Linked DNA regions of Homo sapiens. The protein of the gene in region 3 binds, or shares a complex with, the protein of the main gene of each other region. Links are inferred from orthologs where the notes say so. Each region holds a gene or a part of one and is shown on either strand. Other genes may lie near its edges.

Region 1 (10,161 bases), about 59 Mb from region 3:
AGTCTCTGGTATGTCTTTATTAGAAGTGTGAAAATGGACTAATACCCTTTCTGACCTAGTAGATCAAGTTCTGGGAATTTATTCTGAGTTAATAATTTAAAATGTGTGTAAAATTTAACATCAGTGTATTTATCAATGAGTTATTTATCATAGCAGAACACAAACAACTTGAATGCTCAACAATAGAGAACTGATTATCTGTAGTATATTCTGAAATGGAATATTAAGCAGCTTTTAAAAGTGAGGGGATATATAACTATTGAATGATAGAGAAAAGTTCAGGACACATTGAATATGAAGAAACTGATATTAAAAACATGAACAAAATGAAAATATTTAAGAAAATATGTAATTACAGTTATGTGAATACAATGTAAATTGTTTAGGATAAGATGAAAAGATAAATGATTTGATGAATTCTGTATAAATTGAATGTCTCTAAATTGAATCGCATACCATATGGGCGGATGTGGCCGTTTAAAGGAGACATTTGGTACAGTTGACCCTCATTATTCACAGATAACATATTTGTGAATTTGCCCACTTACTGAAATTTACTTATAACTCCAAAGTCAATACTTAAGGCACTTGAGTAGACACTTGTAGACGCACAGAGGTATTTGTAGATGCACAGAGAATAAAAATTGTAGTTGCCCAATGCACACATTCCCAGCTTAGATCAAACAAAGTGATGCTCTGTGTTCTTGTTTCAGCTCTCATATTCTAAAAAAGTCTCCTTTTTGCAGTATATTTAGTGCATGTTTCTCAAATTTTGGGTTTTTCTGTTGGTGATTTTGCTGCTTAAAATGGCCTCGAGCACAGTGCTGGAGTGCTGTCTAGCATTCCTAAGCAAAAGAAAGCTGTGATGTGCCTCACAGAGAAAATACATGTGTTAGATAAGTTTTGTTCAGGCAAGAATTACAGTGCTGCAGGCCATGAGTTCTATGTTAATGAATCAACAGTATATATTAAAGAAGGTATCTTTATCAGTTGATGAAAATCTTGTTACCAGAGGCTGTCAGGAACATAACCCTTTATTGTCTCCAGTGTTTGCAGTGACTTTATAGAACATAATTACTGAGGACATCAGAAATCAACTATAAATACTTTTGCAACTAATAGACCTTTGGAACAATTATTTTTGGATTTTGTATAAAGAATCCAAAAAAATCTGGAAAACGTGTGGCTAAGAAAACAGTTGATTGGTCCCTAATTCCACCTTATTATGTTTAAATTCAGTGGGTGTCTCACAGCCACGTTTATAAAGGAATCTTGGCTGGGGTGTCAGGTTTCTAGTTTACTTTGACTCTATCTGTCAGTCTGTGTCCAACCTTCATGGCAATTAACTGTGCTTTTGTGTGCTAATTATCATTATCCCAGTATGGGCCCATTATTAGTCCAATGTCCTTAGTTTAAAGCTTAAGTGTCAATCAGTCACCTAAAACAATTGCATAGAAGGAAGCTTTGCAAGGCTGGTTTGAAAGTCCTTAGCTGAGTTCTACTTTATTATACTCCAGTTCGAAACTGAACACAAAGCTCTTCTTGATACAATTGTTTATTTAAATACTGATTTATCTACTTAATTAAAGCAAACTTGAGTTTATATTTTAAAATCAGGGATGGGATAATTGCTACTTTATGCTTGAAGATCTATTCAGGTAGCTATACATTAAACAAGTAAAACCGTAATTATAAAACCTGCACATTTTTATCTGATTGAGTCGCTCCTGCCATTGAACGACCTTATTCAAGTCATTTAGAACAAAGAAAGGTGGCATATATGAGTTTTTTAAAATCCCACTGGATGCCAGGAGTAAGGAGAAAATAGCATCAAATCAGATGTGGTCAGAAAAGAGGTATTTCTTTTCCTGTGATGCTTTTCCTCTTTCCTCCTCTTACAGTAAATCCCCACTTATCAAATCTTCAGATGTGTAGAGAAGGAATAAGGCAGGGGTAATGGGGGAGTGGGACAGAGAGATGCCCTTTCTGGAGTTTGCACAACGGTTGCATGCTGAGTAAAACCTGATGATGTATTCCATTCATGTCTCCAAAAAGTCAAAAGCGGTTTCAGCGTTGATTTCCCTTAAGAGTTATCAGTCCTCATTCAATTGGTTTAATGAGTGTAAGAGGTGACCTTGTGTCTATGTAGATACTCCCATATTAAAAGACCTGGATGTAAAACTTCACATATGTGTAAATAGTTATTTTGGAGGGTGTTGTGAGGGTTATTGCAGCTCTCTGCTCAGCTGCTACTCAGGCTAAACGGGCAGGAGAAATTTTCCACTGTGTTAGAATGATGATTATTTGCAAATTACATGAGCACCAGTAATTCATTCATGCAATGATACAGAGCTGGGTCTCAGTGCAGTGGTATTGAACTTGCTGCTGGGGGCGTTAATTGATTCGTTTGGAACATTCCCCTCCAGAGAATCCCAATCACAGGTCCCCTGATCAAGAAACGGACACGCAGTCGGGGTCCTGGATATGTAGAGACACACGTGTGAGGCTGTTGTCATCAAAATAAACCATTTCTGTCCCCTGACAGGGGTTGAGTCTATTAGGAACACTCCCCAATCCTGGGAGCTTCCGCAAGAGGCTTTCTATCTTGGCAGAGGTGGCAGCTGAGCATCGCTTCTTTGCTGCAGGATGGAAAAAAGGGACTGGATTATTGGCTGCATTTTAAACTAGCTGCTGTTCTAGAGAAAATGTTGGGGAGGGACTGAACAAGCTTAGCACTGGATCAGTGTGGGGGTGTGTTGGTGAAAAGAAAAAATGCCTCCTCCTAACTTAACGTTTAACTGATATCCCCTCAACACGACCCAAATCTGTCTCTCCAGATACACAATGTCTGTTTTCCTAACTACATGGTGAACTGTGGAGCAAGTCTTGGTCATGTTTAGTTTGTTTCCCAGAATCTACTAGAAGACAATGCCTAGCATATAGCAGGCACAGAATAAGGGCCAAAGGGGAGAATGGAAACAAAATATGTACATTTGAAATTTAGAAACACAGTTAAGGGACTTTGCCTGAAATTGTCATAAAACTTTGAAAATTGCTTCAATGTATAGTCCCAGTGGGAGAATGTGACAGCATATTTTATTCTTTGTTCTTTTCTGAAATTCTGTGTCCAGTCTAAAACACGACATTTCCCTTTAATGTGTTAGGAGTATGCATGACTACACAGGAATATTTTCTGGAGAACTTCTGGTGAAGCATATTTTGATAAACAGTCTTACTAAAAGTTATATATATGTACTTTTAATTGACTAGTTGCAGAGAAATAATCAATGTAAAAAAAAATCATACATAGTACAGGTAGTAAAAGTCACAGTTCCGGCAGAAGCACAAAAGCCTTCAAAGTGAGTGGGAACCTGGGAACCATTGATCCTCAGTGGCTGTTTACCATGGAAAACACCTGCATCACCAACATTCCAGTTTTGCAAAAGTACCTCTATTACAGACACATACCAGGCAAGGAGGGAGGAAAAAGCCTGAAAATTTCTCTCCAAGTTTAAGTAATCAGGAAACTTTGGTGGGGAGGTTGGGGTGGGGTGGGGGCGGGGGGGTAACTTCTTTATTTAGCATTAATCTCAGCAATCATGAAAGTCATGGAATTTCAAGTGATGAAAAATTTGACCACAACAATACCTATCACTAGCCTGGTTTTGCCCACTTCTCGAACAGGAATTATAAAGATAATAATTAATTCTAAAAAGCAGAAGACAAAACAAACAAACCAAACCAACACTGAATGAACTAATAAGGCTGCTGCATATATATGTTGGAGTTGGATGTTTATTTGCTTACTGCAGTAGTTTAAAAATAGTTTTCCAGTTAACATCTTTTCCACATAGTGGAGATGTCAGGGTAGGTTTACATGATTGCGTAAATGGTCAGAAGTTGTTTATGTAGCTCTGAACTGCTGAGAGATGAGCAGGAAGACCTGGGTTCAGCAAAACCCTTGGGGCTTTTTCCCAGAGAGAGAAACAGAGGCTCCTCTCTGGGTTGCTGGAATGCTTTCCAGACGAATTCGACTGGGTTGGCTTTTCTCTGCCTGTCAAAGTCACTTTGCACAGTGCTGGTGAGGGGCTGGGGCATTGCTGCCAATCTCTACGGTTACCCCGAGGTGTGGAGTTGCGGCGAAGGGAGCCACTTCTGCAAGGAAACAGTAGATTCATAATGTAGAATGACCGTGGCAACGTCGTTCAAAGCACATTCTTTCGAATAACAAGGCTTTCGACATGCCCCACCCCCGCGCACAACACACCACAAATTGATCCTTGTACCTAATTTACAGCAACTGTTCCCTCTGACCTCCCCCCGCCCCCGCCCCACATTCCAACCTGAAAGCACTTTGCGTGGATGAGACTTCAGGTGTGTAACGCAGCCTGTCCAGCCAGTGTCCTCCGCCTAAGGACAGGCAGGTAAAAACCTACCAAAGCCCCCTCTTCTGGCCTAAGTTCAATGCCACCCGCCCACCCACATTCCCCGGTTCAGCAATTTTCAGCCCAGACGCAGAAGCATCTGTTTCCCTGGCCAGGGCGCCTTAACGATCCCCCGAATTCCGCGTCTCCCGGAGGCCAGAGGTTTGGGTACCCAGGAAGGTCGCGCCTCCTCGTGCCCCGATACTCGGGTTGTAAAGGGAGGAGACATCGCCTCGGCGCATCCCTGGCCGCTGAACAACGCAACCCCTACGTCCCCGCACGGGAATCCGGCTGATAATCTCCTCTTGCCTGAGAATCGGGCCAGGCGCCCTTTACTAATTTCGCGCGCTGGGGACCTGGGGCTGCCGCCTCTCGGCCGCGCGGGGCAGGTGCTGCGTCCCCAGCGCTCGCCTCCTCCGGCCGCGCACTGAGCATGCGCGGGCTCCGGGCCTCCGGCGCGTCTCCCCGTCCCCGCTCGTCTCCCGCCCGTTCCCACCCGCCCGCGCCTCTCCCCTTCCCCGAGCGTCTCCCCCGCCCCGCGGCTAAGGAGCCGGCAGCCCGAACTCCGGCGCGCCAGGTTTTTCCAGCCGCCGCGAGCGCCGGGAGGGAGGGCAGCGCCGCGCCAGACGGAGCCCGGGGTTCGACGCCAGGATTGGCTGCAAGTAGGGAGCTTTCGCCGCCGCCCCGGGCCCCTCGGACTGTGCCGGCGCCGCACCCGAGGCTCTCGCCAGCCCGGCGCCCCGGTGCTGAGGTAAGTGAGGCGGCAGCTGTGCGGGTCCGGCTCCTGCGTGGGCGCGCGATGCCCCGGGGACGCGGTCGCGGGTGTGGGGGGGAAAGGGCAGGGTCCGCGCGGGTTGCCCGAAGGACAGGGGCGCTTCCCGGGGCTCTGACTCCCGCGGGGCCGGGCAGCGTCTGCGGGGCCGTCCAGCTCAGAGCCCGGAAGCCCTGCAGGGTCGGGGAGCGGGAGCTGAACGCCTGAGCGCGGAGGACTCAGGGCCCCGACGACGCCACCGTCACCCCACAGCGACCCTTCTTCTCCTTCTCAGCCGGAAAATAAGTTTGTTGCGCTGCGAGGCAGCCACAAAACAAGGAACCGAGAGCCCGGAATGCTGCGGGAAGCCTTCAAGTCAGCTCCTCCGACTGGTTCGGGCTACTGCCCCCTCTCCGTGCGCCCTGGCCTCTGGCGCCGGGTTCCCGGCGGGGCTTTTCTTCTGACAGCCCAGTCACAGCCCGCAGCAGAGGGACGCGAACCTGGGGAGTGGAGGGACCTGGGACTAAAGGAACAGGAGCCCGTAGCCGTGGTGGAAGGAGCCGCGTGGAGACGGAGGCTGATGTCTGTGGCGCCCGCTGGGTGCCGGGCTGGCTGCTGAGCGCTGAGGCTGCGGCGGCGAGCGACAGGCCAGGTGCCTGCTCTTAGGGAAGGTACCTGGCTTCCCCAGTCTCTGCCGCGGGAGCCTGTTGGGTGGCATTCGTTTCCAGCAACTTCTGGGGGGTTTCCAGTTTCTTTCGAGAGGCAAGACAACCGCCCCGTCCCCTCCCCGGGCCCAGACGGCGGCGAACTGTGCGCCGGGCGCCCCACAGACCCCAATCCACTCACTCTCCTTCTGGAACGCGGGGCTCAAAATCTTCGTGCATTTTCTCTCTTGTGCTTCGTGTATATGTTTTACTATTTATGAAGGGTGTGGAGGTGAGGGTAGGAGGACGTGGGCTCCTGAATCCCTCTGAACCAGCCAGAGAGTCGGCTGCATGGAAACATTTCGCAGCGAAGCTCCTGCGAGGAGGCGGCTTCGCGCGTCGGGAAGATCAGGCGGTTGCTTGCTGGCCAGGGTCTGCAGATTCGGTGCGAAGAAGCTGGCGGAGGTTGTGTAGGGCGAGTCAGTGTGACTGAGCACCCTGGGTGTGTGGTCTGCGTGGAGGAGAGTGGGCCGGATCTTGAGGTGTGTTGGAGGTTTATTTGTAAGAGGAGTTCCTGAAAGGAATGTCGTGGAACTTTTTCTAGTTTTCCTGCTGGAATCAACATAGGGGCGGGCACATGTTTGTCAGAATAACAGTGGCATTTAACTGCATGGGAAGCTCTTTCAATTTTCTGTAGTGGGAGCTGGATAGTTCAAGGAGTAACTCCACATAACTGAGTCGTTTGGATACCCACACAAGATAATTTGGAACGCGCTTGTATTTTTTTGTTTTTTGAGATTTCTGGTTTATGTCCTTTAGAGAGTGGGGTAGGAGCGTAAAGACTGTATAGGTTGCCTATGAGCAGGTCCATACAATAGCGTTCCCAAGTCTGCCTAATAGCAAGTTTGTTCTCTCTTTCTCTCTCTCTACCCAAGTGGGTGAAAAAGAACAGTGTGTCATGAAGACAGGCACCTGGAGGTGATTTGGGTGGCATTCATGAGAAAATTCACGTTACCCGTAAGTTTATTCTTGCTATTTTTATCTTGATTTCTTTAAAGATTTTGTGGGAATATCTGCAGTGGGTCGCAGGAGTAGGTAAGATTGCTAAGGATCAAAAACAAGTTTCATGAGAATATTATTTTTGCTACCTTATAAAATAGCTATTGATTTGTTTGTTGAAGCTGGTTTCAACTGCTCTGTCTTGTTGAGGAGAGATGATGCTGATAAACGTCATTATTTTTCCATCTGAACCCTGGGAGGTAGCTGGCAAGGATGGAAAAACTGACCTTTTCAATTAAAGACTAAGAGTCTAAGAGAAGTGACTTGGATAAGGGTGCATGTCAGAGCCACATGTAAGTTTCAACAGAGGTAGATTTTCCTATTTGCAGTTTTTTAAACAACACTTTTCAGTTTCTTTGAGTTGTAAAACTTTTCAAGTCAATTGGGAGTCAATGCAGTACCTTTTTCCATGGTCATTTCATATTGGCAGGTAATTAAGAGTGATTAGAGAACAAACCTTTCAAATGATGTTGGATTTTTTATCATTCACTTATTTTACCTACTTCTCTCTCCTTTTTGTTCAAAAGTAGGTCTTCTGATTTCTTTTCCGATCTAAGCACTAAATCTTTTGGCTGCAGTTTTTCTTCTGAAATGTATACAGGGCATCCGTTCCTTCAATTTAGGTCTTAAAAAAATAAAGCTGCTCAGCAGAAAATTCCCATGCATGGTACTGACTTTTCTACAAGTTTGTCTGATCATGATTTTAACTTGTTGTTTCTTCTTTGTTATATTTGAGGACAGACATAATATGCATTAGCTTCAATCTCTCTTATCTTAAAAATTAATATTTTGTAAAAACTTGCTTTTATATTATTTTAGTTGAATAAGTCTATTTCATATGATAGGCAGGGGGAAGTCTCTACACACTGATTTTTTTTGTTCCTTTTTGTTCATTTTTCCCTGTAATGCTATGTTTTAAGCCTAGTGAAGGAGGCAAGGAGGCAGGATTTACTGCCTAGATTTATTGATCTTCATTATTATTATTATTTACTATCAGAAGAAATCTGACAACATATCAATAAAATTTATTTATAAACTGAAGACATGCTGTTATATGATACACTACTTATAAAACACACAAAGAAACAAAAAAGATGAATAAAGCAAAAATTATGAAATAGAAGGTCTCATGTTGCTGTTATGTATCCCGGTGGATCATTTTGTACAGCCCCTGGGGTGTGTAGCACACTTTAAAGATCACTGCTGGTTTGATATTTTTAAAATCTTTCTCTCCTTATCTCTGCTCTGCTGTTCATCATCTCTGATACTCTAGCCAGTTGTAAAACTGCTACACTTCTATATCTTCTGTAACAAATAGATTAAGCACACTTGTTTTCCTCTCATGGACTCATATGTGGATAGAATGAGGTGTAAAGGATGAATGTGTTTTGGAGATGTCATCTTAGATCTCCCAAAGTAGACATACAGGTGAATTTTAAAAAATGGAGTTTTAGTTTAAAGACTAAGTACCAATGGTCAGGAAGTGAAGAATCCAAGGAGTAAATGAGGGAGGATTGGAAGGACACTTTCCACATTGCAGTGTTGTGTGGAGGCTGGAAAGTTCATAAACCTTGAAGCAGATTAACCTGAATCTAAGTCTGGCACCATCATTTATTACATTTACAGTCCTGGGCAATGTAGTTCCTTAATTTCTGTGAGCCTTAGTTTCTTTAGGTATAAAATTGGGATAACATCTATTTCACGGCATCACGATAGGGATTAAACATGAGAGCATGAGTCAACATGGGTCAAGAGCTTGGCTCTTTTAGATTGGCTCTTTAGCAGATATAACAGATCCAAAAGGGATACTGCCTCAGATGTGAAATATATTTATTTCTCGGTTGTGTGAAGTCCCAGAATGGGTGATCATGGCAGTACTCCTTCAAAGTGTGATTCAGAGACCCAGCCTTCATCTGTTCTGTGCCCTTGCCGTCTTCAGCAGGGTCACTGTGCTTACTTGCATCAAGCCATTGGAAAGAGGAAGACTTGGGAGGATGTTAATTGCCCAGAACTGGAATGAGTGCATATTACTTTTCCTTGCATTGTGCTGGCCAGAACCCAGTTCTTTGTGGATGTACGTTACTATTAAGGAGGCTGGGAAATATAGTCTAGAAATGTTATCCAGGAAGTAGAAGAAATTGTTGGGGGAACAACTAGCATTCTCTGATGTTTTATTACTATATGTGATATTTCTTCCATGTTCAATAACTGTTACTTCCTTTTCTTCTCCTAACCCTTGCTTTTTTTTTTTTCTGGTAGAAAAACTGGAATGGATACAATAAATAATAATAGAAGCAGTTAATACATACATAATGCTTACTATTATTGAGATACTTTTTAAAGCACATTGCCCTACTTTGCCCTTCTAATATTATCTCTATTGTACAGATGAGGAAAACTAGGCATAGAGAAATTAAGTTATTTGTTCATCATAGCTAGTAAGTAGCAGAGCTGGGATCTGAACCAGGTTCTCTCACTCCAGAATTGATTTTTTAACAGCTTTTTTTTTTTTTGCTTTTGCCTCAATACTTTTCTTATTTAAGCCACTGGACCGCTTTTTACTTTTGCCTATATATAAAAAAGTTGCCAAGAGAATTTTTTAAAATACTAAAGTAGAAAAAAAGGATATAATCCAAAACATACTGGAATGGAATTAGATATGATACAGCTTTATCTTGAATACCTACCAGGATCAGGAGCAGATATTTAAAGTAACTCCCCCCACTTACACACCCTTCACCACTACAACTGCTCTTTCATTTGTGATAAACACATTTTCAGGGTCTGTGCCTTGAATTATAACCTTCCTCTGAAGATTCTATTGTGGGAGTCTTGCGCTACCACTTTCATGCTTCAGTATGTGAGGATAAATTCCTCTTCACTTCTCAGCAGAAACAAATATCTTCCCTGGCAGGTTTTTCAGCTAAAATAGCCTCTCCTAACTTTTGATCAAAGGTATTGCTCTTTATCAATATCCCCATCCTCCAAGAAAGGAAACCCTCTTCTTTTCCTATGAGCTTTGCAAAATTATTTTTTATTTATCTATTTATTTATCTTTATTTTCTATATGACTAAGGGGACTGTATATATATCCCAGGTACCGTCTAAAAGAAAATGGTCCCTCTTGTTCTCATCCTGTTGTCCCATTTCCATTAGAGAATCTGCCTCATCTTATGTTTCCTATGTATTTGTCTTTCATAAAAATGCCTGTTAGAGTTTTGGTTCCCAGTGGCTGCAGTGGAAATGTGTAGTGGTCAATAGTAAGCGTATACTTTTTGCTAAG
Region 2 (10,314 bases), about 60 Mb from region 3:
CTCCTCTAACTCTCACTTTCTTGCTTCCCTCTTTCCCTTGTACGGACCCTCCTGATGACATTGGAGCCACCTGAATCATCCAAGATTATTTCCTCATCTCCAGACTCTTAATCACATTTGCAAACTCCTTTTCCATATAAAGTAATGTGTCCACAGGTACTGGAGATTAGGATGTGATCATGTTTTGGGGGATCCTTATTTTGCTTACCACAGTTTCAAATTATTGAGCACTTCTATGTCCCCAGCCCTGTATTAACTTTATCATACTAAATCTCACTTAATTATTACAATAAGTCAAGGAGTTTGGTATTTTAATTTCTAGATAGGAGGACACAAATGCTTAGAAAGGTTTTGTCATGGCCTCTGTTAGACTGATGAGCATGAAATCTCTTCATCCCACTACCACTGTGCTCCTTTATCACCTTCCTCCCTAACCATCCCAATAATTTCTCTCCCTGACTGTCAAATCCTCCATCTAAACCTCAAACTGCTTTGAAATTTTTCCTCCTAAAATGCCGTCATACTTCTCTTCTCTTCATCAAATGTCATTGTCTCCTCTATTCCAGAGAATGTAGACTAAGAAAAAGGCAAGCAAGATCTTTCACAATGTGTCTCAAAGCTCCTTTCTATAACATTCCTCTTCTAGCCCTGACATCTCAAACTTACTGATCTTCTAAAGTTTAACATTCACTTACCTGGCTTCATGAAATCTCTCAGCTTGTAGTACCCCTGCCAGGCCTATATATGGTCAAATGGTCTTTTTTCTGCTCTATAGCTTCCCCCAAAATTTCCCCTTTAATGTATTTGCGTTTTTCTAAGAATTCCAATAACTTTGGCCCATTGTGAAACAGTGTTGGAAAAAGTTGGAATGGGACTTCAGAGAGAATTGTGGATATGGATCCCTGCTCAGCCATGTACTATCTGTGTGCCAGATCTAATTATTTGATAACTCTGAATGCATTTTCTCATCTGAAAAATAGAGATGAAGATACTTACCTCTAGCGATTTCTCTGAGAACCAAAGGATATAATGTACACCAAGGTGACCCAGAGGCTGTCATACATCAAGGCTCAGTGCCTGGTAACATGTGTTATTATACTCCTCCTTTAGAGGCAATTTACTTTCTTTGCATTTTTTAAAGTAAGAAACCACAGCTACTTTCTTTCACTTTATAAGTTTGTTGCAGAATTTTCTTTTCTTTAAGGGTCGTAGAAGGACATCCAAAGCATGCATGAAAAACAGCTTTACTGAAACATTGATGATAACCATGATTCCAGGTGCTATTCCTGTATGTAACTTTGACTCTCCATGTCCTTGAGATGACATCAAGATTACCTCTCAATAGTGGTGACTGAAAAAATTCTGCATTCAGCACTGTCACTGTCTAGATTTGTAATCTGATATTTGATCTTCCATTGGAAAGTCTGAAAAAGCAGAGCTCACATTTACCAAAATCTCTGCCTGTTCTAATTGGCTAAGCTAAAGAGAAGACAGAGGTATTTTCTTTGTTTGTTTGTTTTCTCACATGATCATCCAGTCATCTACTCAAGAGATAGTGCCTCCCATGAGCCATGCCTAGAGTTAGATGCTGAGGGCCTAAGAGCAATTAAACCAAGCAAGATCTTTGCCAACCGGCAATTTCTCTTTTAGAGAAGAGGCAACCTAAAACAAGAAAAAAAGACAAATGAATAAAATAATCATAAATTATGAAAAGAACAGTGAAGAAAATAAATGAGAAACTAAGATGTACATAAGGAGCATCTATATGGGATAGGCTATGTATTTTGATACAAAATTAAAGATAAAGAGGAGTTAAAGGACAAAAGAACTTCCAGACAGAAGGAACAGCATATGCCAAACTTCTTAAGTATTATTGTTGCTGTTGATGATGATGATACTAGTATTATTAAACAAATATCAGTGATTCATCTGCAAGTACCAAAGCCTAGTGGAAATGATGGATTTCCAAAAGAAACAGAGGTACTGCAAATATACTGTGATCCACACAGACATTACTTAAATGGAATTTAGATTTACAAGGAAAGAAAGAAAAATATTTATGTCAATTCCAAGCAGAAAAGAAAAGTGAAACAAACAAAACACTACTTATGTGGAAAGAAGTATTCAGACGCAATAACTAAAAGTGTTTGCAAATGTTGGCTCAATTTGGCCCTTGACGTTGACTGACTAGCACTTTGTACTCGATTCTTTCTTGCTGCAAATATGCAATCAATCCATATTTAAACATAAAGGAAGCATTAAGCTTTTATTTTATCTTGCACTTATGTTCTTTCTCTTCTGCCCAAATGTCAACCCCATGCTGTTACTTAGAGGTGTAACATAAGAAGTTGTTTTTGAATTGAGTTCACAGTGTGAACTACAGTTGAAAAGAAATGCCATCTACAGAAAAATTGATTACAGGGAAACCATTAGAATTCTGAGGGGCTAGTTTAATGTTGCTCTGTCATTTGATTAATAGAAAATGATTTAGTCTTTGGAAATTGCCTGGAAAGATTTTAAAAGTTAGAAAAGTGCTTGTTTGCTGAGTTTACCATTGACAGACTTGGTACAAATATCATGACATGTGTTTTGTGCTATCCATGTGGCAGTGTTTTGGTTTCTCAAGATGATAGAAATTTTAATTTTATCATAGATATTTGCAATCCAGTTTAATCAACTATATCAAACCAGAACTGTTAACAGTACTCACATTAAGGTGATGGCCTTCTAAAGCAGCTTTCAGAAGTTTTATTTGTCAATATCAGACATAAAGGATTGACACTGGAGAAACATCCATTGATAAAAATAAGAAAGGATGTAGACTAAGAGATATTCTAAGATAATTAGCTGAGACTCTCCCATTTTATCTCCCTTTCTAAAAACATATCAAGCATCCAAGTAAGAGCAATATTATTAAGGGGAAAACTTGAATGTACACTAATTGTATCTAAGAAGTGAATCATTTGCAAACTTCAGAGTTGGATTATTAGCAACAAACCACTTCGAACACAACTGAAAAATTGATTATGTCATAACACCACAGTGGAGAACTGCTACTCTTGGAAGAGAATTAACAGTTACAGGGCTTTTTAATATATACCACTAACCAAATGAGGAATATTTCATATTTTATTTCATATCTCATAAATTAGGAGTTATTCGTTTCATTTTATAATGGGAAAATCCGGCTCTTGGAAGAGATTGGATACAAATTCAAGTCTCTCTGACATCAAAGCCCAACTCTTCTCATCTCCCAGAGAGCAAGAGAAGTAAAACATTCTAAATAATCTGTATAATTGGCTATTCATACCAAGGTACTCACTCCGAATGCAACTCTTCTCGTTTTATGCCCACAGAAAGTTGTGCTTCTGCTTTGGTAGATGAGGACACAAATGCAAACATGTCAATGACAAAGTCATTGCCAACATTGCAAACTGCTCCTTTACATAGCTGGAAGAAATCAATTCTGTCTCCTAGCCAGTTGATTTTTTCAATGGATTTATAGTGTTGAAAACAATACTTTTTCCTAAAACAAACAAAACATCCGGAAATACATAAAACATTCAGAATCCACACTGCCAATGACACTGAAGTGGTGAATTTGTATTTTCTCTGTATTGATTATATAATGGTAATGTTAGTGCTGAATTTTAAAGAACAGAGATAAAAAGAAAGGTATCAAGAGTAGACTAGATATTAAAATTGCAATATCCTGTGAGAATTTTGATATTATATCTTTTATAGCTGAGAAAAAGATTTTAAAAGGCACTGGAGGATAAGTTGAGGAAGGATAGTTACAAAATAATTCTTGCTGCCATTCAGACCTTTAGAAATAAATATGTTGATAAGCATTATAAATGACAAGTACGTTGTACATTGACAAGCAAAGTAATGGATGCTTAGTAAGCTAAAAGCTTTCAGGCCTTTAATTATGGGTTTATATTGTCAAGAAATGTACCAGGACATGGTCAATCCAATTGGCCTGTCCATCTTATAAATAGGTATGGATTGCTATGAGTCTGACCACGGCAATTGGTCTTGATCATAGGACAACATAATGAATGGATTGGCTGTATTGTGTCACCTATGGATCTGCCCAGAGCCCAGTGCATAATCAATACAGCCTGAGAAGATCACCACAGGGCCCTGAACAGTTTTCCTTAGCCACCTTATTGTACAGTCATTTATTCAACGTGTATGAATTGGATGTCTCCTATGTGCCAGGCACTGTGCTAGGGGTTAGTAATACAGAGTTGAGTAAGGCACTTGCCCTCAAGAAATTTAAACAAACACATAACCAAGAATAAATGTAAACCAATGTGATAAACCTATAATAAAATATGAACTAAGCCTCATGTAAGCATACAGGGAAACATTTCTCTATCACATCCCAACTGGACTGTAAGTGATTGAGTGAACAATAGTGATATCCCAGTGGAAGTGGGGTGGAAAGAGAATGTATGGTAATATATTTGAGACACCTGGATTCAGCAATATGTGAATCTTCCAGTGACACACAGGAGATTAAACAGCAGTTGACTCAAAACTATGAAAGAAATAGTTTCCACTTCTACCAGTGTTATAATGAATTAAATATTATGCTCACTCAGCCTCACAAATTCAAAAGAGATGCCAAAAACATCTTGTTGGGCAGTTTTATCTTTACTTCCACTTTCCAGATGAATTATTTTATATCTCTCCAGTTTCAATCTCAAAAATAGTCATGTGGACTCAGATAAGCAGCAAGTTGTTCTGCAGAAACACTAGACTGAAAGCGCTAGACCAAGATTCGTCAGCTGCATGCTTTTGGATAAGTGACTTCCCAACCTGGATTCTCGTTTTCTTGTATGTAAAATTCTCTAGTTGGACTATATCCATTACTTTAGAAGCCAGATTCTAAATCTTTCATCTCTTATCTCCCACCATCTCTCACGCAGACAACATTAATTTCAGAAAACTAAAAGTCGCAGTTTGGATTTAAAGTTGATGTCCTTTGGGATGATCAATCAGTTTGTGATGATTTTCCCCTTTTCTGGCTTCCCAAAAGCTCCATTTATTTTAAACGGCATGCATCTTTCACATTGTCCAGACACAGTTGATTAAGCTAAGATAGACATACGACCAAATGAAGTCAATCATCAGCTTTCTCAGGGGAACTCAAACTTGGACTATCTCTGAACAGAGGAGGTTTTAAGTTTCAGGTGTGGTGAACAGTCATGATTTCTGCCGTGTGCAGTGAGAATGACAAAGAGGTACTCTCTGGCAAGATGAGTATACAGCAGACCCTGCTTCAATAAGCAGAGTGAAGACTGTGGCTTTGTGACATTTTTTTCTCTCCTCAGACTCTGCTGCAATCTGCCATGACTTATAAGAAATATCCTTGATAATTTACTACAAATATTTTGCTTAAAATATCTTGAGTTAGTTGTGTTACAGTTAGAAAGCTAACTAATACAATGTTAAAAAGTAAAGAATTTTAGGAATGAACATCTATGTGTTGATATATATAAAATGTTTGCAACTTGAATTTGCCAAACATGCTCATTGATTGATGGCCAAATGGAATCCTAGATAAAGAGACCCTCTGTCTGTTTATATATGATAAAGTAAACAAACTCAACAGCAATGATTAATAAATTAATACTGGACATGCAGCAAGCCATTATTAATTCATAAGTCTGTCACAAAGGCATTCCCAAATGACCAGATTTGAATAAATTTGCTTACTGTGATTAGAATTAATATATTTCAAATGACACTGAAGACATTTTAGCTCCTTCTATGCAAATCATCGAAGACTTATTTTTTCTTTTCATGTTGATGCATCATACTTTGACCATGAGCTAATTAACATTCATTTGGATCTTTGATTATCTCTTTAAAGCTCCAAGCCAACCACCAGCAAACATTGCCTGGAAGCTGACAAACTCTAAATTATGCTTGAACTGGGAGCATGTAAAAACCATGGAAAATGAGTCTGAAGTTTTGGGGTACAAGGTGAGTTTTTAGTTTTTCCTTTAATCATATCAATTAAGTTACTAAGGAATGAAACATGTGACACCCAAATGGAAAACAAATTGGATGCATATGGAAACACTGGAATCTTTTTCAAAATTATTTTGAAAATACCATTGCTGCTTTCTAATTTTCCATTGAAAATGTTTTACATTCCAAGGTCCAGTAATGTATTAGGGAACATCAATAAATCAAATTCCATAGGATGTAACATTTTTTCTTCAAGTGGCATCCCTTGCTATCATAAGATGATGGCTTATGTGCATAGTAGATGTGATGACAATGAGATCAAAAAATATATCTAAATAGAGATTTTAGAACTTAGGCTGCAGTATGATGTGATCTTTTAACAACATAAAAGGCATCTAACAAGAGTACAATCAAGTACCCAGAGCAACTCATTTCCATCAGTGACAATGGACATCATCTCTTGGCAGACATATATTCAACATTTGAAATGGGTCCAAACTCAACAGTGACTTTCCACAGCAAGCTCCAATGATAATAGCCTCAAGCTATTTAACTAATAGGGATAAATCTACTCTCCTTCCAGAGGCATTGGCCAAAAAAAAAAACACCTCTTTTTCTTAACAGGAGCAATGGAATATAAGGAAAAGACATCACTTGGATATTTCCATCTGAGGAGTACAACATTTATGATGATGTATCTTATGTCTTACAGTGTTCCAGAACAGTTGTGTGAACCTTAGAAAAGCAACATGTCCATGTTAACTTGATACCTCATTTTATTCAGATTCTGTACCGGCAAAACAGACAGAGTAAAACTCATATTTTGGAAACAAACAATACATCAGCTGAGCTTCTGGTTCCATTTGAAGAAGACTACTTAATTGAAATAAGAACAGTCAGTGATGGTGGAGATGGAAGCAGCAGTGAGGAAATTAGGATTCCAAAAATGTCAAGTAAGTTGAGTCACCATTGCTGTAGTAGATTCTGAACCTAGACAGCTGCAGCATGAAATTCAGCTCCATGAAACCTTCCAGTTATGGCTTAAATGTTGGGTGATAAGATAAATTTTCAATTGTGAGCAAAAGGTGATGAGCCATTTTTTTAAGTTATTCTCCAAAATTATAACATACACTATAAATGGTTTTATGCTTCCTCATTTGAAAACCAAAAAGAGAACAGGAAAAAAAATCTTTGTGTCATTAGAGCATAATTGTATCACTCATTCTATTATCACAAAAATCAGAAAGATTTTTCATAGATTCTTTCGGGTCTTTTACAACAGGAATGGCAAATATGAAGCACAGGTAAATATACACCCTTTCCCATGTTCATGGCAGACATCACTAATCAAGTGTGGCTTTCATAAGGAGCTGAGTCACAACTTTCAAGTCCTCCTCAAAACAATTTTCTAAGCCAACCAACACCAGTCAGTCAGAGTTAGCAGGCAATAATAATGTATCATTTTTGCATTAGAAAAATCACTTACTCATCTGCCTGAAGCTGTGATTGAGTGCAAGTCATTAGCATCCAATGTTGGCCAATCCTTTAGGCAGACTTTGCCAATTTAGGGATTTTCCTTTTGCATTTTTATACTTAAATCAGATGTCCTTGGACAAAGACACGGTAAGGCACTTTCTAAAATTAAATATAATGTGAATGAGACAAGTATAATAAAATATGTTACTAGAAGAGAAATGATAGTATGAAATTGGGGTTTTGAAAAATTAATCTAACAGGCAATACTTTATCTCAAAATATTTTTGTCTTATTTTTATATTTTGCAGGTTTGAGTTCCAGAGGAATTCAATTCTTAGAACCTAGCACCCATTTTCTTTCCATTGTCATTGTGATTTTTCACTGTTTTGCTATTCAGCCACTTATCTGATGAATAAAACCATAAATCTTTGAGAGTTTTTTGAAAGCAAATCATTCTGTATATATGCTCTCCAGCCTCTGACACAAGATGCGTTCTTAATACAGACTTGTTTGCAAAGAAAAAAAAAAGTATATTATTAAAATCCTGTAAATATCTATGGTATATTAATAAAACAATTTTAAACACTTTTGAATTTTAAAATCCGCACATGATTACATGAATTCCTAGGTGCCACATTAACCTGGGGAGTTGTAACTGCTGTGTCTTTTAAGTTACTTATATGGAGAAAATAAATAACTCCCCTCAATGATGCTGATGATGAATACAAACTTGGCTCCTAGTTACCATAACTCACATGTACATTTTTATGTATTCCAGACAATCACTTCAGTATTTAAAATTTCCACCCTACTTCAAAATAAAATACAATTATTTGTTTATAGTTGGGATTCTTTAAAAATACAAACTATTCCAAAGCATGGGGTGCTTTTATCTCTGAATCAAGTTGGAATAAGAAATCTTTTTACTCAAGAATATTTCAATATACATGATGTTCTTCTCAGCCCACTTTTCAGAAGATTCAGTCACAATAAAGGCAGAAAAAGTATTTTATGGCAAAGAAAAATAAATGATGGGAAATGAGCACCCACCTAAAATAATCTTCTAACAACTCTGGTATATATTAAGCAATTGCTCATGGCAAAGTTGAACATTTGAACTGCTGCATGAACAAATCTCAGGTAATTATGACAAGTTGATTGCAATGTATGTGGCCTTATTTTTATAATAAAACAATGTGGAAACAGAATTATTTGATCAAGTTTTCTACACTTTGGTCAAAATATTATTTTTTGCCAATCTTCTCTGCAGCTATGAAAACAATTCTACATGAACCAGGGTTTAGAAAGATTGTGTGGGTTGACTTTTCTCTAGGGTGAGCCTGTTTCAGTCAGTGACCTCACTTCTTAGGATTGTGTAGTCTGGAGAAAGCAGTCTGGGAGAAGGTGAGATTAGTGACCTGGCCCATAGAATGCTATGTAACCACCCCCCTTCCTCCACAAACAGCCTTGAGAGGTCAGTTCCTGCTGTCAGCCTTCTCTGGCTCCCAGCCAGTCAGGTTTGTTGTCCTTTAGAGCTAAATGTGAGAAATGCTCACGTGACTTTTATCTTCTTAACATGGTGCAACCTCTTAATTATGTTGAGAATATTTGAGCTATTCTCACAACCCTCAAATCATACAATCCTCAATATGGGATTTTGTCATTTGCATGTCTGAGGTATTTTAGAACTCTTTAAAATACCCCATGTAGTCAGCAGCAGATGAACAATGGCTTTCATAGTTCAGAACTTGCTCCTTGCCTGAACAGTGTGTCAAGCACACAATGCAAATTAATGAGCCTTATTCTCCCCATTGCCATATGATCTGACTGTGCTTTTGTAGAGCAAAACAAATAAGCAACAACAAATACTATTTGGCACACCCGTGTTAACAGCTGCCTGGCCAAGATACATCTGAATTGACCAGAGATACCAGTGCTGGCACATGGTCTTAATGGTTTCCTTAATTTGGTAAGAGACAAGATTTGTGTCCTCCTCCCCAAAGAAGACATTGAGGGTTAAAAATACTGTGAGGTTTTTGTTTCTACTAATTAAGTGAATCAGATATACAGTCATTTGTGTGTGAGTTCAAAAGCTAAGTTAGTTTTTATCAATAATTCTTATATGTTTGCAGAGTACTATTTAGTTCATGATTTCTGGAATATTAAATGTCTGTATTCACTGTCTAACATATCTAACATATTATTTATCTTTTCATCAGTTCACTAAATTTTTCAGAATATACTTTGGCATTAATAATAAGCAGCATGGGCTTTGGTGCGATAGGAATCTCTCCTCTTAGTGAAAACTTGGACATATTTCTTTTAACATCTCCATTTCACTAATATCAGAACAATAGAGTGTTATGTACATAAGGTATTTGGCATGGTGCAAGGAACATTGTAAGTTGTCAATAAATGGAGCTGCTGTTATCTGCTGCTATGAATTAAATCCCAAATGACATAAGTTATTACGTTTACATATCCAATATATTATGAAAATAGTTTCAACCTGTGTTTATGTCAAAATCCAAACCAGCTTCAAGAAAAATGAATTGATCACCTACTCTCCATACTACATGGCACTCAAGGATGAAAACAGTGGTGATTCTAATAACCTGTTTCAGGGAAATGTTCTACATGATGTGTATACTCCTCTGACATTCAAGAAGGATTTCCAGTGCATCCCTGTATTGACTGAGTAGACTGCTGTTATAAACATGATATGTCATTTCCATACTTCCTACAAAAAAGGGAGATAATGTGATTGTACCTGGAAATGGCTGGAGAAGGAACCAGAAATAAGGTTTAGGAGACTCAACACAGTGGAAATACCACTTTAAAGCTATGGACTGC
Region 3 (10,695 bases):
GAGGTCTGGAGATTGAGACCATCCTGGATAACACAGTGAAACCCCGTCTCTACTAAAAATACAAAAAAATTAGCCGGGCGTGGTGGTGGGCGCCTGTAGTCCCACCTACTCGGGAGGCTGAGGCAGCAGAATGGCATGAACCCGGGAGGCAGCGCTTCCAGTGAGCCAAGATCACGCCACTGCACTCCAGCCTGGGTGACAGAGCAAGACTCCGTCTCAAAAAAAAAAAAAAAATTTTTGCCATAAGATGTGAGGTATAGGCTGAGGATTTTTTTTTTTTTGCATATGGATGTCCAATTGTTCTAATATGTTTTGTTGAAAAAAACTATCCTCACTATATGAAATTGCCTTTGCATCTTTGTAAAAATCAATTGGCAATATTATGTGGGCCTATTTGTGGGTTCTCTATTTTATTTCATTATTTCATGTATCTATAACTCCACCAATACCATATTGGCTTGATTAATGAACCTTTATAGTAAGTCTTACAGTCAAGTAATGTGAGGCTTCTAACTTCTTTTTCATAATTGCTTTGCTAGTCTAGTTCCTTTGCTTTTCTATATAAATTTATTATCACCTTGTCTGTATCTACAAAAAGTGGAAATGCACAAATGCATAGATTTATTGAAAATGTATATTTGACTATAATGTCATCCAACCCATGAATATAGTATATTTCTCATTTAATTAGTTTTTATTTGACTTATTTCATGAGCAGCTTATAGTTTTCTACATACTAATCCTACACATATGTTGCTAGGTTTATACTAAAGTATTTCATTTTGGGGAGTTTATCGTAAATGAGTTTTTTTGAATTTTAGTTTTCAATCTTTTGCTGCTCATATATAGACACAAAAATAATTGTTGTAGGTTGACCTTGCATCCTACAACCTTGCTAAACTCACTGGGAACTATGCAGATAATCATGTCATCTGTATAGGGGCAGTTTTATTTCTTGCTTTCTAATATATACGGTTTTTTTTGTTTGTTTTGTTGTCTTATTGTACTGGCTAGAATTTCCAGAATAATGTTGAATAAGAGTGCTGAGAATGTATTATTTACCCTGAGTGAGGAAAAAAAAAAAAAAGAGTGGTGAAAATGAATATCCTTGCCTTGTTTCCAGTTTTGGAAGCAAAGAATTCAGACTTGTATAAGTTTAGCTATGGGTTTTTTTTTAATAGATGTCCTTTATTATGTTAAGGAACCTCCTCTCTTCCTAGTTAACCGAGAGTTTTTATCATGAATGAATGTTGAATTTTGTCACATACCTTTTCTGCTTTAATTGATAGGATCATGTAGTTTTCTTTAATCTATCTTTAATGTAAAAGAGCCTTACCAGTCATATTTGCTATGACTATTTAATCCTTTTTTTTTAGACAGCGTCTAGCTCTGTCACCCAGCCTGCAGTGCAGTGCTGCAATTACAGCTCACTGTAGCCTCAATTTCCCAGGCTCAAGAGATCCTCTCACCTCAGACTCCTGAGTAGCTGGGAGTATAGCCACACACCACTAAGCTTGGCTAATTTTTTTTTTAAGAGACTGGGGTCTCACTATGTTGCTCAGGCTGGTCTTGAACTCCTGGGCTCAAGTGATCCCCCCATCTTGGCCTCCCAAAATGTTGGGATGACAGGCATAAGCCACCACACCCAAACTTAATCCTACTTGTTAAATAGTGTATTAAAACACCACTATATGGCCGGGTGCAGTGGCTCACGCCTGTAATCCCAGCACTTTGGGAGGCGGAGGCAGGCAGATCACTTGAGGCCAGGAGTTTGAGACCAGCCTAGCCATCATGGCGAAACCCCATCTCTACTAAAAATACAAAAAATTAGCTGGGCGTGGTGGTGCACGCCTGTAGTCCCAGCTACTCAGGAGGCTAAGGCAGGAGAACTGCTTGAATCCAGGAGGTGGAGGTTGCATTGAACTGAGATTGTGCCACTGTACTCCAGCCTGGGCAACAGAGCAAGACTCTGTTTCAAAAAAAAAAAAAATGCCACTGCATGTTCATTTTCTTTCAGCCACTGAATATAGGGCTTTTTGTAATGACAAAAGTTATTATTAGGGGACTTAAGAGATTTTCTATGGTTATATATATTTTCAGAATAAATAGGCTTTGCTAAGTCTTAAGTTCTTTAAAATAAACATTGCCTCAAAATTTAAAGTTAGGATGATTACAATGGGTTTTGTTGTTGTTGTACAAACATTCACTTGAGAAGTTGAAAGCCCAGTCACAAATGTGTTTTGTCTATACATGAAAACAAACGAAGGGTAAAAGGTAAATGGGCTTTGTATTTATTTCCTAGGGCTGATGTAACTAAGTACATCCAACTAAATGGCTTAAAACAACAGGAATTCAATGTCTCACAATTCTGGTGGCTAGAAATCTAAAATGAAGGTGTCATCAGGGTTATGCTCCCTCTGAAATCTGTAAGGGAAGTTTTTGCCTCTTCCTAGCTTTTGGTGTTTGCTGGCAATACTTGGTGTTCCTTGGCTTGTAGATGCATCACTCCAATCACATGGCTGTCTTCTTCCTGTGTCTTCCCCTCATCTTTCCTGTGTGCTTGTCTGTGTCTGTGCCCAAACTTCCCTTTTCTATGAAGACACCAGTCATATTCGATTAGGACCCACACTAAGGACCTCATTTTAACTACATTACCTCTGGAATGACCATATGTCCAAATAAGTTCACATCCTGAGCTTCTAAGGGTTAGATACCTTCTTTCAACATTACTTCACAATAATTCAACCCATAACAGGCACTACTCACTTTTAACAGTAGATGAAGTAGATTGTTTGTATAGAAGGCCACAAATTTCCTCCTACCTTTCTATTCATGTCCTTTTGCTTCCTGACTTTGCTGCTTCTCCCATCAAGAACTGGAGTCCATTTCCACCTCCTCTTGAATCTGCCCTGGCCTTGTCTTGCTTTGACCAGTCAAATGAAATGGAAGTAATTTCACACAACTACTAAGTCTAGGTCTCCAGGTGCCTTGCAATTTTCACTCTCACTCTCCTACCTGAGATCTTTTTGTAAATAAGTCTGAGACAGGCTGCTATAGAGATTAGTGGGTGAGGTCTGAGATGCTCCAACCAACAGCCAGCACGAATTGCCAGGCATTTGAGTCAGGGAATCTTAGACTACGAAGCCCCAGCTGAGCATCTGGATTCTGGTGCTATAGATGCATGAGTGACCTCACACAGAACCAACAGAAGAACTACTCAGCTGAGCCCACCCCAAACTTCTGTCCTACTGTTTTAAGCTACTACGTTTTGAAGTGATTTGTTACACAACAATAAATGATTGATACAGAAGAATGTTAAAAGCTTGAGTCTTCTGTTGTTTACAGTCTGAATTGCCTCAACTAAATCACTTAATTCTAACAGCCCCTGCTTCCTTTTTTGTAAAATGTAGATATTTTACTCATCTGTCACCACTGGTTCCAGGTTTCAGGTTTTCAGTTTTAATGAATAAAAACGTAAGGGATAGGAATAAGAGGAAATTATTAGCTCAAGTAACTGACAAGTCAAGGAGTTGGTTTGGCTTCAGGTATGACTTGATTCAAGGACTCAAATGAAGGTATCAGGGATTTGTTGGCCCCCACCTCTGTATTCTTTTTTTCTTCTTGTGTCAGATTCTCAGATGGGCTTGCCCCAAGTGAGGGCCCTCCTTGCAGTATGAGGTTTAAGTTGATCTGGCCTGGCAAACCTAAAAGGAAGTTTGACTTTCATTGGACCTACTAGAAATATGTGCCCATCCCTAGACCAGTCTGGTCAGAGGGATGAAATGCTCCATTTGGTCAGGACTAGGGCACGTGTCCACCTAACCCAGTGAAGTGGAGAGGTGGAGGTAGGGATAGGGGAAGAAAGGGTTAGGCTCACCAAGACCATCTGGGGAGACTGGCACAAAGGAAAACTGGGACACTATTACTAGAAGAAAAGAAATGGACGCTGAGCAGGTAGAAAATAACAGATGTTCACTTCTTATTACATAGGCTGGGTAAACAGATAACAGTAATAGCTTATACTTATTAAATGCTTATTAGGTTCCCAGCACTGATCTGAATAGTTTATGTATATTAATTCCTCTTATTCTTCTCTATTTAGGAAGATGTATGGTTATTATAGTATTCCTACTTTACAAATGAGGAAGCCAAGGCATAAAGTGATTAAGTTGCCTATGGTCATGCATATATGAGTAGCATCAGAATCTAACTAGACTGGCTTGAAAGCTACTGCCTTTAACCTCCAGTCTATATTCAAAATAGGTCACCAGCACTATGGTAGGCAGGATTCTAACATGGTCCCCAAGATCCCCAACCCTTGGCATATAATTCCTTCTTCTTGAAAGTGGGTGGGACCTGTGAACATGACAGGATAGCCACTCCCTTGACTAGGTTACATTATATGACAAAAGTGATGAAACGGTCACTCTCTAGACTCCTGTAGGAGGATTCTCCTGCTGACTTTCAAGGAGTAAGCTGCCATGTTGTGAGGGCGCCGTGTGGCTTAGACCACTAGTTGAAAGCAGCCCTTGGCCAACAGCCATCAAGAAAATAGTAATCTCAGTCCTACAACCACAAGGATCTGAATTCTGTCAATAACCTGAATGTGCTTGAAGGAGGAGCCCAAGCTCCAGATGAGAAAGCCTGGCCCATCCCTTGATTTCAGCCTGATGAGCCCTTGAGCAGAGGACCCAGCCATACTGTGCCCCAGCTTCTCACCTCTAAAAGTGACAGGCAATGAGTATATATTTTTTTAAGCTGCTAAATTTGAGGGTCATTTGTTACTAACGTCAGCATCTTCTCTTTGTAGCCTTTTTATCTTCCATCAGGGTAGCTAGGCTCTCCCTCCTTTGGCACTCCCAGGGCTTTTCACACCAACTTGCTCACTGTTATCATAGAGCTCCCATATCACCTGGGTTAGGATTGTAATTACCAGGTAGGAGCATGGCAGGGCTACTGCTAGGTCATTATTGTGTGACTAGCACTTGAAAGTGTCTATTATATATGAATCGCTCTGTAATTGGTTGCAGAATAAATGAAAAGGCATCTGTGATGTATGTTTGCAAAATTTTATCTTTTGTAGGAACTGGTGGGGCCTGGATTGTGCTTCCAAGGGTAGTTTGGGGGTAACCTTCAGCCTGGGGTCCTAGGACAGTCACCAGTCCATACCGAATTGGATGTGAAGTTTTAGCATGGGGCCTCCTACACTACTAAGGTAGTGGTAATTCACTCTGCAAACCCATATGAGGTTTTCCCCGACTCTGAAGCTCTTTTTTTACATTCCACATTTTGGTGCCTTCTCAAGCCATTATTCTGTTGCCTTGAATCACAGCTGTGGAGGCAAACAGGCCTGGGTTGAGAATCTCAGCTCTGCTGCCCACTAGCTGAGGATCCATCATTGTACTCTTCTGAGCATGTTTCCTTGTCTATTAAATGGGGAAAATAATTCTCACAGCTGGCAGTATTTTAAGAACTCCATGAGAGAACGGAGCATGGACTTAGGAAGGTATGCTCCCATAAGGCATGGGGGCTTGCCCTTTTTGTTCGAGGCTGTGTTCCCAGTGTGTCCCTCAAACAGTAGGTGCTCAATACATTTGTTGAATGAGCAAGCAGTTTATGGCATGAATTCAGCACAATGCCTGGTAGACAGTAAGCATTCCACAAAGGACAGCTTTTACTGTCCATTTCACAGAGGAGGAAACCTCACCTGAGGACGCTGACACAAGTATTTGACGAGTTTTTCCTATTTTATCACTCGACATTAAGAAGGTAGTCAGGGATGCTGGGGTAATCTAACTTGAGGAACGAATATCCCTCATTACAACACTTCCAAGAAAAATGGCCCTCGCAATCCTTTATAAAGAAGTCAGGATTCCAATAAAACCAGGAAGGACCACATTCCAAAGCAAACAAACTCGCCTCATTCCCCACCCTGGGGGAGGGTGTTCACCCCCGTTCTGCTAAAGATAGAGCTAGGGCCCTCCCCAGGAACTTCCTGGCTTTTATTAGTTTGTAATCCCATACGTAACTTTTCAAAGGTTTTTCTTTTGGAAGTGTGGGTGTGAAAATGCTTCCTTAATCACATCGAACGGGAGGATCTCCGACCATCTGTACTTTATTTGAAAACCTAGCATCCGGTTGGGATGTTTGGGTGGGTGGAGGACCCTGCCGTGTTGGGATGAAACAGCAGGGACACGTTTAAAACACAAGAACCATGCGCGGTGGCTCACGCCTGTAATCTCAGCACTTTGGGAGGCTGAGGCAGGCGGATCACAAGGTCAGGAGTTCGAGACCAGCCTTGCCAAAACGGTGAAACCCCGCCTCTACAAAAAAAACCAAAATAAAACAAAAAACAAACAAAAAAAACCACCAAAAAAATAATCAGCCGGGCGTGGTGGCGGGCGCCTGTAGTCCCAGCTACTCGGGAGGCTGAGGCAGGAGAATCGCCCGAACCCGGGAGGCGAAGGTTGTAGTGAGCCGAAATCGAGCCACTGTACTCCAGCCTGGGCGACGGAGCGAGACTCCGTCTCAAAACAAAACAAAACAATCCCACGTCAAGATCGCTTTGAAACACAGGCAGAAAAATTAGGCAAAAAATGTCAAACGGCTAATTACCTTGGCTCAGTTACACATTTACTCGAAAGCCCGCCTCCCCCACTTTTAGCCCCAGCGTTAAGAATGTAAAATAGGGCGCTTAGAAGTCTAAGCGATAAAGATCTTCTTACCGAGAGCCAAGGGACAAAACTCATTACAGATAAGCCTAGTCCTCCCATTTCCCCCGGACGCCTCTCCCCGATTGCTAAAGAAGCAGCCGCTCCCCGGGTAGCTGCCAGGAAATCAGTCCGGCCCCGCGGCGCTGCTTTCACCCTGCAGGGTGTAAGAGGCGCACTTCCTGCGCCCTCCCCGCGGCCAAACCGGGGTGCGGGAACCTTCTCCAGAGAAGCTGCGAGTTGGGGAAACTCCGCCACCGATCCATCGTGGCGCCGGGAAAGGGGATGCGGGGCTCGGAAGGGCTAGATTTCGCAATCCTGGGATCGACATTCCTCCCCTCCCCCACTTTCCCCAGCCTTGGACTGGGCCAATGAAAGCCCGAAAAAGAAAAAAAAAAAAAATTAAATCTCAATGTAGCCGGAGTGCAAAGGCCGCTCGGCTTTGTTTCCCGGCGGGGGAATGCGCTGTGTTGGAGGCGCGAACAGGAGCCGCAGACGGTGAGCCTCACCGCTGCAAATGCCAGGGCAGTGAAGCCGAACAGAAAACCCCATCGCTTTAAAAAGGCAGCTGTCCGCCCTCCCCCTTTCCCCTCGCCAGGGCGAGGGGCCCCTCAAGTCCGGGATCCGCGAGCTGCGCGGAGGATCTCGCCAAACCCGAGCACCGTGCGGCGTCTTTTAAGAGCTCGAACAACGGGAATCCAGCAAAAAACAAGCCGGCCCCAGAAGGCAGCCTCCCTCCTCTCTCCGCGCACGGGCTACAATCGCCCCCAGTCCCCAAACTGTCCCAGTAGAGGCCGCGCGGAGAGAGCAGAGCCGAGGGACCCAGCGCAAGGCGGGAGCCAAGCGCGGCTGCTTTAAGAACGCGGAGAGCGCGCGCCCGCCGCCAGCTGGCCCGGGCTGCGCGCCCCCGCCGCCACCGCGCGCCCCCTGTTCGCTCGCTCCTTCGCTCGCCGGCTTTAAAGTCTCTGCCAGGATCCATGCTCACATGTTACTTCCTGTATGGAGGCATGGCCAGTTTCCAGCCCCGCGCTCTTCGTTCCTTCCCAGCCTGCGCCGGAGCCACAACTTTCAGGAGCATGGACTGAAGGCGCCCTCGCCCCAGCGCCCCTCTGAGATCCTTTGTGTTTTCCTCCGTTTCCTCCGGCCGTTTCTATTTTGGGGGGCTCTCCGCTCCCCCTGCCTCTCCCCTCCCCTTCCCCTCTCGCAAACATGCCTCCTTCCTTCCCGGGGCCCTGGAAGGAGCTGCCTGCCTGAAGCCCGGAGACGCCGCGCCGCGCTCAGCCCCGCCGCCGCCCGCCGGCTCTCGGGCTGTGCTGCGCTGCCGACTCAAGTTGGGGATCCTCGGCTGCTCGCCGCCGCCGCCCGCGGTCCCTGCCTGCCCCAGGCCCGGGGCATCGCCGCCGGCCGCCGACTCCGCGCCCTGCCCGATCGGCTCTCTCCTTTTTAAACGGAAAGCAGCCTTTCTCCGCCGAGAGGATCGTCCCCAGCGTGGCTCTGCGTTCCCGGTCACTTTTTGAGATTTTCCGGGGGGCGCTCGGCGGCTTCCCGGATTCCAAGGGGACTCGGGCCGCCGAGCGCGGGGGGCCCGTGGAGCGGGCGAGCCGGGGAAGCGCCCCGGCTTAGCGGAGGCTCGCACGGAGGCAAGAACTTATTCAACAAGTTTACCTCCCTGCTTTCCTCTTTTCGATGTGCGTTTTCGGACATGCGGAGGTTACTGGAACCGTGTTGGTGGATTTTGTTCCTGAAAATCACCAGTTCCGTGCTCCATTATGTCGTGTGCTTCCCCGGTGAGTGCCGGCCGCCGAGGGGATGCGGCCCCGGCCGGCGCGCGTTGGGGATGCGGAGTTGTCGCCTGGGCGCGGAGCTCCGGCGCCCGTCCGGGAGACCCTGGAGAGGGTGGAGGGTGGCCCGGCGCCCGGATAGGAGAAAAGGATTGCTCCGCTGGCTTGGATGATGTTTAGGGAGGCAGGCTAGTGGTCGAGGAAGGTGGAGGCAGGGGCTGGCCGGGGAGGGGGCTGGGGGACGCGGGGGTCTGCTCCCGCTCCCTTTTGGGGGTCCTGGGGAGCTGGAATCGGGAGAAAGGGGGACTTGCTTTGCTGACTCGTCGCCGATCGGGAGAACTCGAGTTGTGGGGCGGTTGGGGAGACTGAGGCCATGGAAAGGATGCTTCTGTGGGTTTGGGGGGCCCGGGATGAGCCCCCTCGCTCTGGCGGGTATTGAAGGAACTCAGAAGGTGGGGGTTTGCTTTGCTGTTCTCCATCCCTTTGGGAGGGCTAGGTTTCGGGGAATGGAAGTCGGAGGCTGGCTGCGGAGGACTGAGGATGTGTGGGGAGCAGCCTGCGTTCTGGGTCGGGGGCGTCCTCCCTCTCTCTGGGGGCTGGGGCGCGGGCAGCACTTCGGTGCCGGCGTGAGGCAGCCTCCTTGGGCGCAGTGAGACGGCAGGGCGCAGGCGGTTTCGGAGAGATCCGTGTCTCCCCTAGCCCCGGCCCGTGGCCCTTTCCCTCCGCTGCTCTGCTCGATTGGATTGCCTGGGTCTGGACGCGGGGAGGGGGCGGGGGCGGTTTCGGCGGCCGGGGCGGTTTCGGCGGCCGGGTTGCTGTTCGCGCCGGGGCTGATTTTTTTCCTGTCTCGCGCGCCCTGCCTACCTTCATCTTTGCCCTTTTGCAGGCTGTTCGCGGCTGGCAGACCCAGTCTCGCTCCTTTCTGGCCAGGTTAAGACAGGAACAATACTGGCCGTTGATAAGAATAAATCACCGCACGTAACGGTGTGCGGCTCGGCGACCCTCCACTTCCAGCTCTCAGCTGGCAGTTCCCCCTCCTCTCTCCCCTGGGGAGGGCAGAGGCCAGCTGCCTCCCTCTCCTCTCTTGCAGGTCCCCCGGGCAGCAGCCCCGAGCTCCCTCGTAGCTGTCCCTTGGGGTGGAGGCCAAGTCCTGCCCTAGCCCGGGGAAGGGCTGGAAGAAGGGGTGATTTGCTTTTCATCCCTCGCTCCCCTAAGGACAGAGAATTCCCCGTTTTTCTGCCCTCTCATCCATCAACTCCTGCATACCCGGAGGTGGAGGTTATCTGAATCAAGAAAAAGAGGAATGTGCCCCGAGGTCTCCGCTCTGCCTGGTTACAGACGCCTGTCCTCGGGCGGCTGGAGCGCCCGTTTTTGGTGCAGCGGGTCCCTTAGTCCCGTCGTGCGACCCGGAGCAGGGCGCGCGGGAGCCCTCGTCGCCCTTGGGGATCCCCTCGGGGGACTGGCAGCGAATGCCCCCTTTGCAGAATCGGGGATGGCCTCGAGGGGCAGAAAGGGAAAACACCGTCTGGTATTCTGCACCCCCTTTTCTCTCTGCGCATCCTCCTGCCCGCGGAGCGGCACGGAGCTCCAGCCCAGAAACGCAGCTCGGAGGCCGAGCTAGGACGTGCGTCCACACTCACCCTGGGGTTTGCCCACTGGAGTCCTGCCTCTACGGTAGGACACTGGGGCCTGGGGTTTGCCCACTGGAGTCCTGCCTCTACGGCCTCTACGGTAGTGTAGGCCATGGGGACATCTCCCCTTAGAAACAGCTGCCTTCATTCACTAAAAGATCACTGCTCAGTATTTGGGTTAATCATCTCTCCTTTCTAGTCTCCCCTGCTTTACCACGGACTTGACGACTGAGCGGGCTCAGGTGCACACAGGGGTTGAGCTTTGTGAGGGCCACTCTTTAATGGGTGCAGTGGGAGGTCGTGGAGGGCTGCCTTGCAAATTAGAGGAATTTCCAATTCCACTTCTGTCCTTCTTGCGCTCGGGGATGCAGTCAGTGGGCTGACCGTGGTTTTCTTTTCCCTGGTGTGTGAGGAAGCTTGAGATCCAAAATGGGACTGCCAGGGAACCAGCCTTCGTGGGGCTTGGACCATTTTCGTCTTCTCATTTTCTTTTCGCGCCCACGCTGCGAGGTAAATAGCCCCTTTCCTGGTCCGGGAGCCGAGGGGTGTGGGAAAGGGAAAGGACAGTGGTGG

What was found.
Region 1: the proteins of PTPRG (region 3) and CNTN4 are in contact, whole or in part, in a crystal structure (PDB 3KLD), measured with the Mus musculus proteins. The link is inferred for Homo sapiens from one-to-one orthologs. Residues at the interface, in NP_033007.2 of Mus musculus: Lys222, Val225, His226, His227, Lys229, Phe288, Thr290, Gln293, Asp294, His295, Val296, Lys297, Ser298, Val299, Glu300, Tyr301; in NP_001103219.1 of Mus musculus: Thr128, Arg129, Ser130, Val132, Ser133, Arg135, Gln138, Gly139, Met140, Val141, Leu142, Leu143, Cys144, Gly145, Val219, Met220, Gly221, Glu222, Tyr223, Glu224, Pro225, Lys226, Glu228, Leu250, Asn304.
Region 2: the proteins of PTPRG (region 3) and CNTN6 are in contact, whole or in part, in a crystal structure (PDB 5E5U), measured with the Mus musculus proteins. The link is inferred for Homo sapiens from one-to-one orthologs. Residues at the interface, in NP_033007.2 of Mus musculus: Val225, His226, His227, Lys229, Phe288, Thr290, Gln292, Gln293, Asp294, His295, Val296, Lys297, Ser298, Val299, Glu300, Tyr301; in NP_059079.2 of Mus musculus: Arg129, Val132, Arg135, Gln138, Gly139, Val140, Val141, Leu142, Leu143, Cys144, Gly145, Met222, Gly223, Tyr225, Glu226, Pro227, Lys228, Glu230, Leu252, Asn306.

The regions. Positions count from the first base shown.
Region 1 is NC_000003.12:2,093,804-2,103,964, forward strand, and holds the start of CNTN4 (contactin-4 isoform a precursor), read left to right. Parts: upstream 1-5,062; 5' UTR 5,063-5,175; intron 5,176-5,470; exon of another isoform or gene 5,471-6,361; intron 6,362-6,512; exon of another isoform or gene 6,513-6,754; 5' UTR 6,755-6,836; exon of another isoform or gene 6,837-10,161. UniProt on the Homo sapiens protein: Contactins mediate cell surface interactions during nervous system development. Has some neurite outgrowth-promoting activity. May be involved in synaptogenesis.
Region 2 is NC_000003.12:1,395,549-1,405,862, forward strand, and holds the end of CNTN6 (contactin-6 isoform 1 precursor), read left to right. Parts: intron 1-5,884; coding exon 5,885-5,997; intron 5,998-6,769; coding exon 6,770-6,938; intron 6,939-7,769; coding exon 7,770-7,870; 3' UTR 7,871-8,669; downstream 8,670-10,314. UniProt on the Homo sapiens protein: Contactins mediate cell surface interactions during nervous system development. Participates in oligodendrocytes generation by acting as a ligand of NOTCH1.
Region 3 is NC_000003.12:61,553,876-61,564,570, forward strand, and holds the start of PTPRG (receptor-type tyrosine-protein phosphatase gamma isoform 1 precursor), read left to right. Parts: upstream 1-7,695; 5' UTR 7,696-8,412; coding exon 8,413-8,497; intron 8,498-10,695.